Regions from separate parts of the Homo sapiens genome. Here region 2 is linked to region 1. Evidence: fine-mapped expression QTL. A gene starts in region 1. The other region holds a variant in brackets. All regions are shown on one strand. Distances are from middle to middle. Region 1 holds the start of RFT1 (RFT1 glycolipid translocator homolog). Region 2 overlaps RFT1 (RFT1 glycolipid translocator homolog).

What was found. PIP is the estimated chance that this variant, and not a neighbour inherited with it, causes the effect.
Region 2: its variant is fine-mapped to the expression of RFT1 in whole blood (INTERVAL, PIP 0.90).

What each region holds. Positions count from the first base shown.
Region 1 is chr3:53,127,643-53,133,020 of GRCh38, forward strand. It overlaps RFT1 (RFT1 glycolipid translocator homolog), which reads right to left and starts at 2,793. Exons shown (of 13, transcript NM_052859.4): 1 at 2,696-2,793. The coding sequence starts at 2,758. RefSeq lists enhancers at 2,649-2,838, 2,849-2,898, 2,939-3,138, 3,149-3,198.
Region 2 is chr3:53,102,060-53,107,437 of GRCh38, forward strand. It overlaps RFT1 (RFT1 glycolipid translocator homolog), which reads right to left. Exons shown (of 13, transcript NM_052859.4): 8 at 4,760-4,810; 9 at 3,614-3,744; 10 at 1,894-2,038. Among named protein-coding and RNA genes, the nearest start is that of RFT1, 26 kb to the right of the region's middle. RefSeq lists enhancers at 707-756, 756-1,257. The variant T/C (reference allele first, on the strand shown) is at 2,179.

The DNA of each region.
Region 1 (5,378 bases):
ACTCCATCTTAAAAAAAAAAAAAAAAAGAAAAGAAAATCCCAACACTTTGGGAGGCTGAAAGGTAGGAGGATCACTTGAAGCCAGGAATTTGAGACCAGCCTGGGCAACACAGTGAGACCTCATCTCTACAAGAAATATTTTTAAAAGAAATGAGACTGTAGAAGTGAAAGCATTTTTTAAGTGCATACAAATGAAAGGCATTAATACTTTCAGCATAGGTGGCTTAGAATTAAGATAGAACAAGCTCTCAAATTCTTGCAGAATAAAATGTAACCACAAAGCTACCTGAAGTGTCTACAGTGTAATTCGAGAAAGCATACAAGAATGAAAACACTCAAGAAACCATATAAAAATATGGTTATTAAAAAAAAAATCCGAGCGCGGTAGCTCACACCTGTAATGCCAGCACTTCGGGAGGCTGAGGCAGGTGGATCACTTGAGGTCAGAAGTTCGAGACCAGCCTGTCCAACATGGTGAAACCCTGTCTCTACTAAAAATACAAAAATTAGCCAGGTGTGGTGGCAGGTACCTGTAATCCCAGCTACTTGGGAGGCTGAGGCCTGAGAATCTCTTGGGCCCGGGAGGCGGATGTTGCAGTGAGCCGAGATAGTGCCACTGCACTCCAGCCTGAGCAACAGAGTGAGACTCCATCTCGAAAACAAAAAACAAAACACCATGTGTACATACTTATGTTAACCTCAAAGTTACCACTGTCTAAGAAACTTAATGTTCCAGGCCATATCCATGTCTCCTAATTGGTTTGAATAAAGGTTGCAGCTAATGAAACTGAGGTTGCTTACGCCACCCAGTATTTGCCACACACTGCAGTCCTTATTAGCAACACAGCCTTCATTTACTTCTGCAAAGAACTTTACAGCTTTTGTTTTAAGACAGGGTCTCACTCTGTTGCTCAGGCTGGAGTGCAGTGGCATAATCACAGCTCACTGAGGCCTCAACCTCACAGACTCGAGATCATCCCACCTCAGCCTCCTGAGTAGCTGGGACTACAGGTGCATGCCACCACGCCCATCTAATTTTTGTATTTTTTGTAAAGACAAGGTTTCACCATGTTGCCCAGGCTGGTCTTCAACTCCTGAGCTCAAGCAATCCTCCTGCCTTGGCCTCCCAAAGTGCTGGGATGACAGGCATGAGCCACCGCGTCCAGCCAACTTTACAGTTTTAACAAAAAGGCTCTCTCACATCTGTTAAATTATTTGACACTAAAAACAACGAGGTAAATGCACAGGAAGCAAGACTGAGGGTTAAGTGATTTCCTCACTGTCACACGGCAAGTAAATGACCCAGCTTGACCTTACAGGTAAGCCACCTGACTCGTAGTCCAGTGTGTTTTCCGTTATAACTTGTTTTCGTTTTATGAAGCCTATCTGAGTAGTAAGATATTATCAAAGGCTGAAAAAAAACCAACATTGTGGATAAAACAATAAACTCAGTTATTTATGTAGTGAAACAGAAAAAAAAAATCCCTAGGTAAACTTAGAATGGCTAACATTTACTAAGCACATATCACGTGCAAGGCACTCTTCAACATGCTTTCCATAGGTTATCTCATTTCATTCCTACATTGACTATTTTAAAAATACTTATTACCCTAATAAAAATAGCTACATTTATTAAGTACTTGTAGTGTGCCAGGCACTTAAGAGGCATGATTTCATCTAATCTTCCTAATGACCCTGTGAGGTTGCACTATGATTCTCATTTAAGATGAAGAAACTGATACAGAAGTCATCGGATTTATCCCGAAGGCAGGCATCTAGCAAGTGACAAGGCCCAAACTCAAGCCCCATTCTGCTTGGTTCTTTCTTCTGCCCTCCATGTGCCTCTCTAAGATAAGGGGTAGGGTAGATTCGGGACTTGTGTGAAGTAGGGTTGATTGGCTCAAGAGTGAGACAGAGAGATACTGAGCCACTTGACTTAAGAGGTTCAGCTCCTGGGGTTGAAAGAATCTTCAGATACCATTTGGACTAACTGGCCTGTATCATACCTGACAGATGACAAAAATTAGGGCCAAGAAGGGAAGTGACTTGTCCAAGATCACATAAACAGAAGATGCAGCCAACATGTATTAAATGCATACTAAGAGCCGGGTACTGTGTTAAGTACGTTTATTTGAATGATCCCAATCAATCCCTGCTTATGAGCTAAGTACGACATATTATTACCCCCATTTTACTAGTGAGGAACTCAGGCTCTGCAGGTGAAGTCACTTGTCCTGGGTCACGGAGCAATCCAAGCCTAACTCCAGATTTCTCTTCTTAGCTATGCCATATGGACTCTCGGAACTCAGTGGGACTCAAAGTTTGAGGAAGGTGTTTGATGAAGGAAATGAACCCCTTGCCTGAAAAATATCAGATTCTCGAGCACGAAATACCAGTCCCTCACCCCCGCCACCTGATCTAATTCACTCCTACTGCCATATGGGAAATAGAATGCTCAGAAGGAAAGCGGCTTGTCTGCAGTCACCCGGCCTAGACTCTAAAGGCAGGCTCCTATCTCCGGGCCAGGGTCCCCCCTCATCAATGCCACCGTCTCCGGTCGACCCCCCCACCCCCTCCATTGCGGGGTCCACCTCGGGACTGGGTCGGCCCTGGGGCAGGCTCTCAAGGGCCCAAGGGCTGCCATCCCGCGAATCCCGGCTGCAGTACAAGCTGGAACCTGAAGGGCAGAGAGTACCTGCAGGAGGAGACCGGAGGAGGCCAGCCGGGCCGCGTGGCCCAGCACCTCCTGGCTGCCCATAGCCTCCGCGCCAGGCTCAGACACCAGGAAATGCCGCCGCCACTCCGTTTAGTCGCGATAAGATGGCGTCACGGCGCGCCTCGCTGTCTGATTGATGGCCTTGAGAGAGGGGGGCGGGGCACGAGAAGTTCTGGTCCTTTAAGTGGGCCTGTCTCGGGCCGTCTGTTATGGCGCCTGGCTCTTTCTATTTCGGTAGGTTTTGCGCTGTCTGTCGCTTGTGCGCTGTCTGTCCCTCTCTTCCCCGTATAAACGAAATAGTGTGGCGAGTACTAAGAGATACCGTTAAAGAATCCAAAGTTCCTTCTCTGAGGCTTTCAGCCACCAACCAAGAAGCACTAACTTTCCTGGCCTCATCTGCCAAAAGGGGAACAAACTTCTCACTGGCCCGTTAAGAAGATTCTCACCATTGACCTTTGCTTACAGAATCACAGCCACAGACCCTCTGAATTAGGCTGGACAGGAATTGTCCTCATTTAACAGAGAAAGAACTGAGGACCAGAAGTTAGATATAGCACTGTTATGTGTATGGTTTTGTGAAATCCTTCCGAAAGCTCTGAGAATTGGCCCCTGTGGTTAGAGATGAGTAAAGCCTTGGAGATGGGAAGTGACTTGTTCGAATCTACACAACTTGTTTCCTGACTAAGTGGATACCAGGCTCCTGATCCTAAACTTATCACTCTTGCCTGTATGCTAGAAATTGTGAGGGCAGAGTGGAAGAAGGACTGGAAGTGCTTTGTAAAAAAATGTAAAGCGCCCAACATACACAATCAGCTGCTGTTCTGTCAGTGTTCTTATTATCTACCAAGCAGGCTGTAGGAAGCCCAGTCTTTCCCCAATCTCTTTCAGTCCTCACATGATTTGGCCCCAACCTATCTTCTACTACCTTTCACACGATCATTGCCCTTCCCAACACTATCTAGGCCATAGCCATTCCGAGTCCTTACTGGTCCTCAAACAGGCGGTGACTCACTGGCCTTTGCTCCTCCACCCTCTTTGTCCAAAGTGTCTTCCCTGACAGCACCCCTTGCCCTCCTAGACCACACTGTCCTGACTTTCCTGGCCAACCACAGCTGGTACCTGCTGTGGACTAAATGTTTGTGTACCCTCAAAATTCATATGTTGAAGCCTAATCCCCAGTGTGATAGTATTAGGAGGTAAGGCCTTTGGGAAGTAATTAGGTCCTGAAAGTGGAGCCGTCATAATGGGATTCATGTCCTTATAAAAAGAGATGTCAGAAAAATGATCTCTGTGTTTACTATTTGAGGATACAGCAAGAATGTAGCTGTCTGCAACCACGAAGAAGGCTTTGTAAAATGTAAGGCGCCCAACATACACTTAACAGGAACCAAACTGGCTAGCACCTTGATCTTGGGCTTCCAGCCTCCAGAGCTGTGAGAGAAATTTCTGTTTTTGACTTACCCAGTCTATGGTATTTTGTTACAGCAGCCCAAGCAAATCAAGACAGTACCCCTAAAATACTCTGTACCCCTTTATAGTTCCTAATGCAATCTGCATTATAGCAGAAAGACTAGAATATGTGTCTCTATATAATCAGCCCATGAGCTCCAAGAGGGCAGAAGTGCAGCCTGCCTGGTTTTGCTTCCTGAAGTAGCGGTACAGAACATTCTTAGGGCTCCTATAAATGTCTCCTGACACATGACTGCTGCTACTGCTGCTGGAAACAGACTGTGGAACTCAAAGCCTATCACTCCCATCTTCCCAGGTGAAATGAGCTCTGTCTTAGTGTGGAGGCCCAGAATGTGAGCTTTTCTTTTTCTTTTCTTTTCTTTTCTTTTCTTTTCTTTTTTTTTTTTGAGACAGGGTCTCGCTCTGTCTCCCAGGCTAGGGTGCAGTGGTACAGTCTTGGTTCACTGCCGCTTCCACCTCCTGGCCTCAGGTAATCCTCCCACCTCAGCCTTCCGATTAGCTGGGACTACAGGCGTGCAGCACCAGACCTGGCTGATTTTTTCTGTGATTTTTGTAGAGATGGGTTTTTCCCACGTTGCTCAGGCTGGTCTCCAACTCCTGGACTCAAGTGATCCGCCCACCTCAGCTTCTCAAAGTGCCGAGATTACAGGCATGAGCCACCGCACTGCACCCTGCCCAAGAATGTGAGCTTTTGTCTGTCAGAGAGAACTGACCTTGAATCCTCATTCTGCCACTCACTGACTGGGTGACCTCAGTATGCTCAGCTACTAAATAGGGATATTATCTGTCCTGTAAAAATAGTCATAAGGATTGTTTCAGGCAAGTCTGGCCCTCAGAGAGCTTAAATTCTAGTGAAAGGGAAACTGAAAAAAACTCTAACAAACAAATAAAATTTCACATAGGGCTAAGTGCTACGAAAGAATGAAACCAGGTAAGATCCTAGAGGCTTTGGAAGAGAGAGAGGGGTGCTGTTTTAGGATGAGTGAGTTGGGCACCCACCTGGGGAGGAGTGTACTTGGAGAATAGAGAAAGTGCTGGAGGGTCCAGGTATTTGGCATAATGGCTGAGATGCTAAAGACCTTGACCTGGGCAGCCTTCCCACCCCCCTGGACTGTGGGCCAGCAGGTGAGACAGCCTCCCACTTCCTTTATTCCCAGCCAAGCAGTCTCCTCCTCTACAGCTCATCCCCAGA
Region 2 (5,378 bases), 26 kb before region 1:
GAAACTTGCATTGAGGCAGACACGTGCAGGGAGATGATGACGTGAAGAGCGCAAGGGGGATGATGACGTGAAGACAGAGAGAACACAGCCATGTGACCGCAGTACTGCAGCTGCAAGTCAAGGAACGCCAGGATGCCAGCAACCATTAGCAACTAGAAGAGGTAGGAAGGGGCCTCTCCTCGAGCCTTCAGAGAGAACACGGCCCTGGCCATAGCTTCATTGTGCACTTCTGGCCTCCAGAACTGACGGACAATATGTTCTGTTGTTTAAAGCCACGCAGTCTGTGGTACTTTGTCATGGCAGCCCTAGTTCATTAAGACAAGGGGATAGAGAAGGAAAAAAGTAAAAGGCAGAGGGACAAGAGAGAAGCACCTAAGAGAGAAATGTAAGAAATCTTGGGGAAATTCTGTGAATGTGTGGGTTTTGCTTAAGGATAGAAAAGCTAGGTGTTGTTCTGTGAGTTACCAAGAAAAAAGAAAAGAAAAGAAAAAGCAAAGCAAAGCTAGGTGTGAGAAGGATTTCTAAGAAAAGCCTCTAGAACACTTACAAAGACCCTAATTAAATGCAGGGCTAATCCCAAACAACGGAAGAGAAGCCACACCCCTACACAAAAGCCTGTCCGTGCTGTGTCCGAGTCCCACATCTGGAGATGGCCAGTACAGCTCACAGGTAAGTAGTCCACTTCCAGGGTGAAGACAAAGACAAGTACACAACTGGGGACAGCAGTGTTGCGAGTTCCACTTTCAAAACTAAGATGATGGGCTGAGTCATGATAATGATGGGACAGCCCCCTCCTTGAGGCAACGCCCTGTGATTGTGTGACATTAGAGGCTGCTCCTTGGTGATTGCTTTCTAAAGGGGAAGAGCTGCTACAGAATAGTCGAGTTCCCAATCTCTGCCCATAAACTTACTAATGCCTTCCTCATGAGGCCTCCCCACAGCTGCCAGATGGAAATACACTTCTCACAGCACAAGCCCCAGGGAGCTGCAAACCACTTCACTGGTTTCACAGCAGGTGTTTCTCCAAACTTAATGACCTTTGCTCTGGTATAGAAACCTGGCCCTTCCTCCCCTAACACCAAAAGTTTGGGCCCCATTGTAGTGGAGACTAAAACATGCTAGTGAACTTGTAAAATGGCATTTGACAAAGCCCTTTATATTGAGATGGGGCAGCAGAAAGAAGTCCTCAGCGTTCTTGTCCAGCGACCTGAGAAATTAAAAACATCTTTGCTAAACCCAAGATGAAGCACTGCAAATGGACTGCCAGCTTACAGCCCAGCACATTTTGAAATTGATGAAGTCCCCAAGACCTAACAAGTGCTGTGAGATCCTCAGCGGCCTGGTGTTTCAAAATTAGACACATTCAATACTTTTCTTCTTCAAAAACTGAGAGTCACTGGATTAAATATACCATTTTATTTGCAGAGATCAATTTTATTCTCTGCAAATGGCTTTGGGTTATCCTTCAGAGGCTTTTATGCACTAGGCTGGGAGATTTATGTGGCATTTACTATCTTCAGATGTGTTTAGTACCAAGTGGAGACTCATTACCGTCTGCCCTCTGCCTTCCTCCCTCACCCCAGAGGGAGCACAGGGAAGCGCTTGGCAAAACACATTCTAGGCCCGAGAGGAAAGCCAACAGCAAGGAGAAGTCCTAATAACTTCTCCAAGTGAGGCTGGGGAAGCTGATTGTCCTGGCGCCAACGCCCCTGCCTATACCTTGAGTGTGTGTCTGGAGTTGAACGAGGGGAACAGTCCCACAGCCCCTGCCACCAGACAGTTTTCCCTACACTGACACAGATAACAACTGTGTGTGCACAAGTTCTTGAATTTCGTGACTCTTCTATTTATGTTGGGAAATCAGAAAAAATCCAGAAAAACTCTTGTGCGTACCGGATCCTGAGCTAAGCATGGTCCCTCCGTAGATATCCAGAGCCAGCTGAGAATAGGCAAAGCCAAAAACAGTGATGGTCAGGCCGGCCAGCAGGGCCAGCTTGAGCAGGGACTCCAAGACTGCAGCAGCCACAGCAACGTCCTCCTGGGGCCAGGGAAGAGGGAAGGAAGTTGGATGAATCATGAGCTGAAGAAAACCTTCATCCTTCACGTCTGGCCTTCTCCCTTCACTGTTTTACAGTTCACTCTTCCAACAGCGTGATGGATATCACTATTTTTTTGTAG[T/C]GTGTTTGTTTTCACGTCAGTTAGCAAATGAAGGAAAAAGTGTGTGTCTCCTTAGGTCGTAAGGGGGAGGGTTAGTTTTCAATTCACTTGGGATAAATTGTTTCAAATATTGCTTAGGAAACACTCACTTTCCCCTCTGATATTTGTTCTTTTTTTTTTTTTTAAATAGAAATAGAGAAGGGAGTCTCACTATGTTGACCAGGCTAATCTCAAACTCCTGGCCTCAAGCAATCCTCCTGCCTTGGCCTCCCAAAGCGTGAGGCTTACAGGCATGAGCCACTGCACCAGACCACTAATATTTATTCTTAAATGTGCAGCAAGTTTTCATATACACTAGCCAGCTCTGTGCTTCTCCTGCTAAACATTCCAAAATTATGATGATACTGTGAAGGTACTCTTAGGAAAATATTCCTAAATCAGACTGAGTACCAGATTAGCTCATTTTGAGATATTGTGCATAAACTGTATTTTACTAAATTTCTTCTAAGACAAGCAAGAGGCTGAACTAGCTTGCTATTCTAAGAAAAGTCAGACATTTTCAGTGGTTTTGGAAAAAGTGAAGCTCCTACAACAAAATACTCCTAGATTAAAATCTCTTCTTCTGTATTTACCAACCCGAGTATACAGAATCTTACAGTCAGAGTGTAGCTCTGGGCATGTCCCAGTTGTAAGAAGCTTAAATAATTGGTGTGGTGAGCGAAAGCCAACAACCACTTCCTCTCCTCCCTATGCCCTTGATTAGCCTGGCTCCAACTTCTGCATCCTTTGGCTCTTGAGACTCTGAGGATAAGGGAAGCATTCTTACGCCTAAGACTAGCCCATGGCTGGGCATCTGCAGGGCAATGGGGACAGCTTTAGAGTCCTGAGAGGGCTGGATCAAGAGTAAGGTCACATGGCCAGGTATGGGGGCTCACACCTGTAATCCTAGCACTTTGGGAGGCTGAGGTGGGCAGACTGCCTGAAGTCAGGAGTTCAAGAGCAGCCTGGCCAACATGGCAAAACCCCATCTCTACTAAAAATACATAAATTAGCTGGGTGTGGTGGCGCATGCCTGTAGTCCCAGCTACTCAGGAGGCTGAGGCAGGAGAATCGTTTGAACCTGGGAGGTGGAGGTTGCAGTGAGCCGAGGTCATGCCACTGCACTCCAGGCTGGGCGTCAGAGCAAGACTCTATCCCCGCCCCCCCCCCCAAAAAGAGTAAGGTCACAACGAATAACAAAGGTGTGAGAAGGAAGGGACAGCCAAGAGCAAAGCAAGAAGGCCACGAAAGAAGAGGTGAGCCCTGGGTCCCACTATCATGAAGAATGTAATAGAAGAATGAAATCTATAAGAAAATTCCTGATCAAACAGAAGAGAAACAGACTGCTTCACACTCCTGTCTGTCTTGCAATTAAAGGGAGAATTCACTTGAGAGATGACATAAGAACCAACATTACCTGCTTCTGAAGTGTGGCATCCTTTCCCCTCTCCAGCACCTTAGCAAAAAATATATAAAAACTTTCCTCTATTGGCTGGAAAATTAATCTGGCCACAAGGGAGCCAAGATTATTCACTATATCATACACACCTACAAAACAAAAAAGAAGAAACAACAATCATGTTGGTTTTTCTATTTTAATTTTTATAGCACTATTAAAATTATTTAATATTTTCATTAAAGTTTGTTTATCTTGAGATAATTATAGATTCACACAGAGTTATAAGAAGTAATAGTGGCCAGGCACGGTGGCTCATGCCTATAATCCCAGCACTTTGGGAGGCCAGGGTGGGTGGACTGCTTGAGCCAGGGAGTTTGAGATGAGCCTGGGAAACACGGAAAAACCCTGTCTCTACAAAAATGGAAAAATTTAGCCAGGCGTGGTGGTGTGCATTTGTAGTCCCAGTTATTTGGGAGGCTGAGGTGGGAGGATCACCCAAGCCCAGGAGGTTGAGGCTGCAGTGAGCTGTGATGGTACCACTGCACTCCAGCCTGGGCAATAGAATGAGACCCTGTCTCAAAAAATAAAAAATAAATAAAAAAGACAAAAAAATAGGAAGTAATAGAGGGATCCCATATATACCCTTTACCCAGTGGTAACATTTTGTAAAACTATAGTACAATATCACAACCAGGATACCAACGATGATACAGTCAAGATACAGAATGCTTCCATCAACAGTACTTTCTTATACAGGTCATTAATGCAAAGTTGATGTTTTTCTATTTGATTTCAGTTACTTTGGGATTACATTAAAAGATAAAAATGAAAATACTGAAAGACTATCTAGCCACACAAACATGGGGCAGATTTTTGTGGCTGTGACAGTGAGCTCCCTTTTCTCCTCTCTTGGCACCTCCCACCTCCCAAAATGAACACCAGAGCTCTCAGGAGGCAAAATAGAGGGCCGGGGTCTCACCAGAATACCTGACACCAAAGTCATGTTGGAGGGCATAGTCAGTACAAAGACCTACAATTTACAATCTTCAGGATTTTCTTTAATCTTCAGGTTCATCTTTCATTAAATATATCAGAGAAAAATATTAGGAAGTATCTATTAATAGTGTTCACCTTTAATTAAAACACTACAGAATTTCATCTTACCCTGATCACCAAAGTTCAATACATTCAAAAATGTCATCACATATCGCTCGCCTATAAACAAAAAAGCAAAATAATTAGCAATGTCAAATGCACATTACTTTATTGTTTCCTTTCTCTCACCAGCTATCAACTTTTCCAGCTGACAAATAAAGGAGAAATACTAGGTAATCAGTTAAAGACATGTCCTTGTCCTAATGTTGATTTCAAATAATCTCAGAGTAACAATTTGGAAAGTGCTGAGGACTTTATTGACAGCAAATCTCCAAGCCAGTTAAATTACAAATAAAAAAAAATAAAAATAAAACAAGTCTAAAAAGGTTTTTTTTTTTTTTTTTGAGACGGAGTCTCGCTCTGTCACCCAGGCTGGAGTACAGTGGCACGATTTCGGCTCCCTGCAAGCTCTGCCTTCTGGGTTCATGCCATTCTCCTGCCTCAGTCTCCCGAGCAGCTGGGACTACAGGCGCCCGCCACCGCACCCGGCTAATTTTTTTTGTATTTTTAGTAGAGATGGGGTTTCACTGTGTTAGCCAGGATGGTCTCGATCTCCTGACCTCGTGATCTGCCCACCTCAGCCTCCCAAAGTGCTGGGATTACAGGCGTAAGCCACCACGCCCAGCCC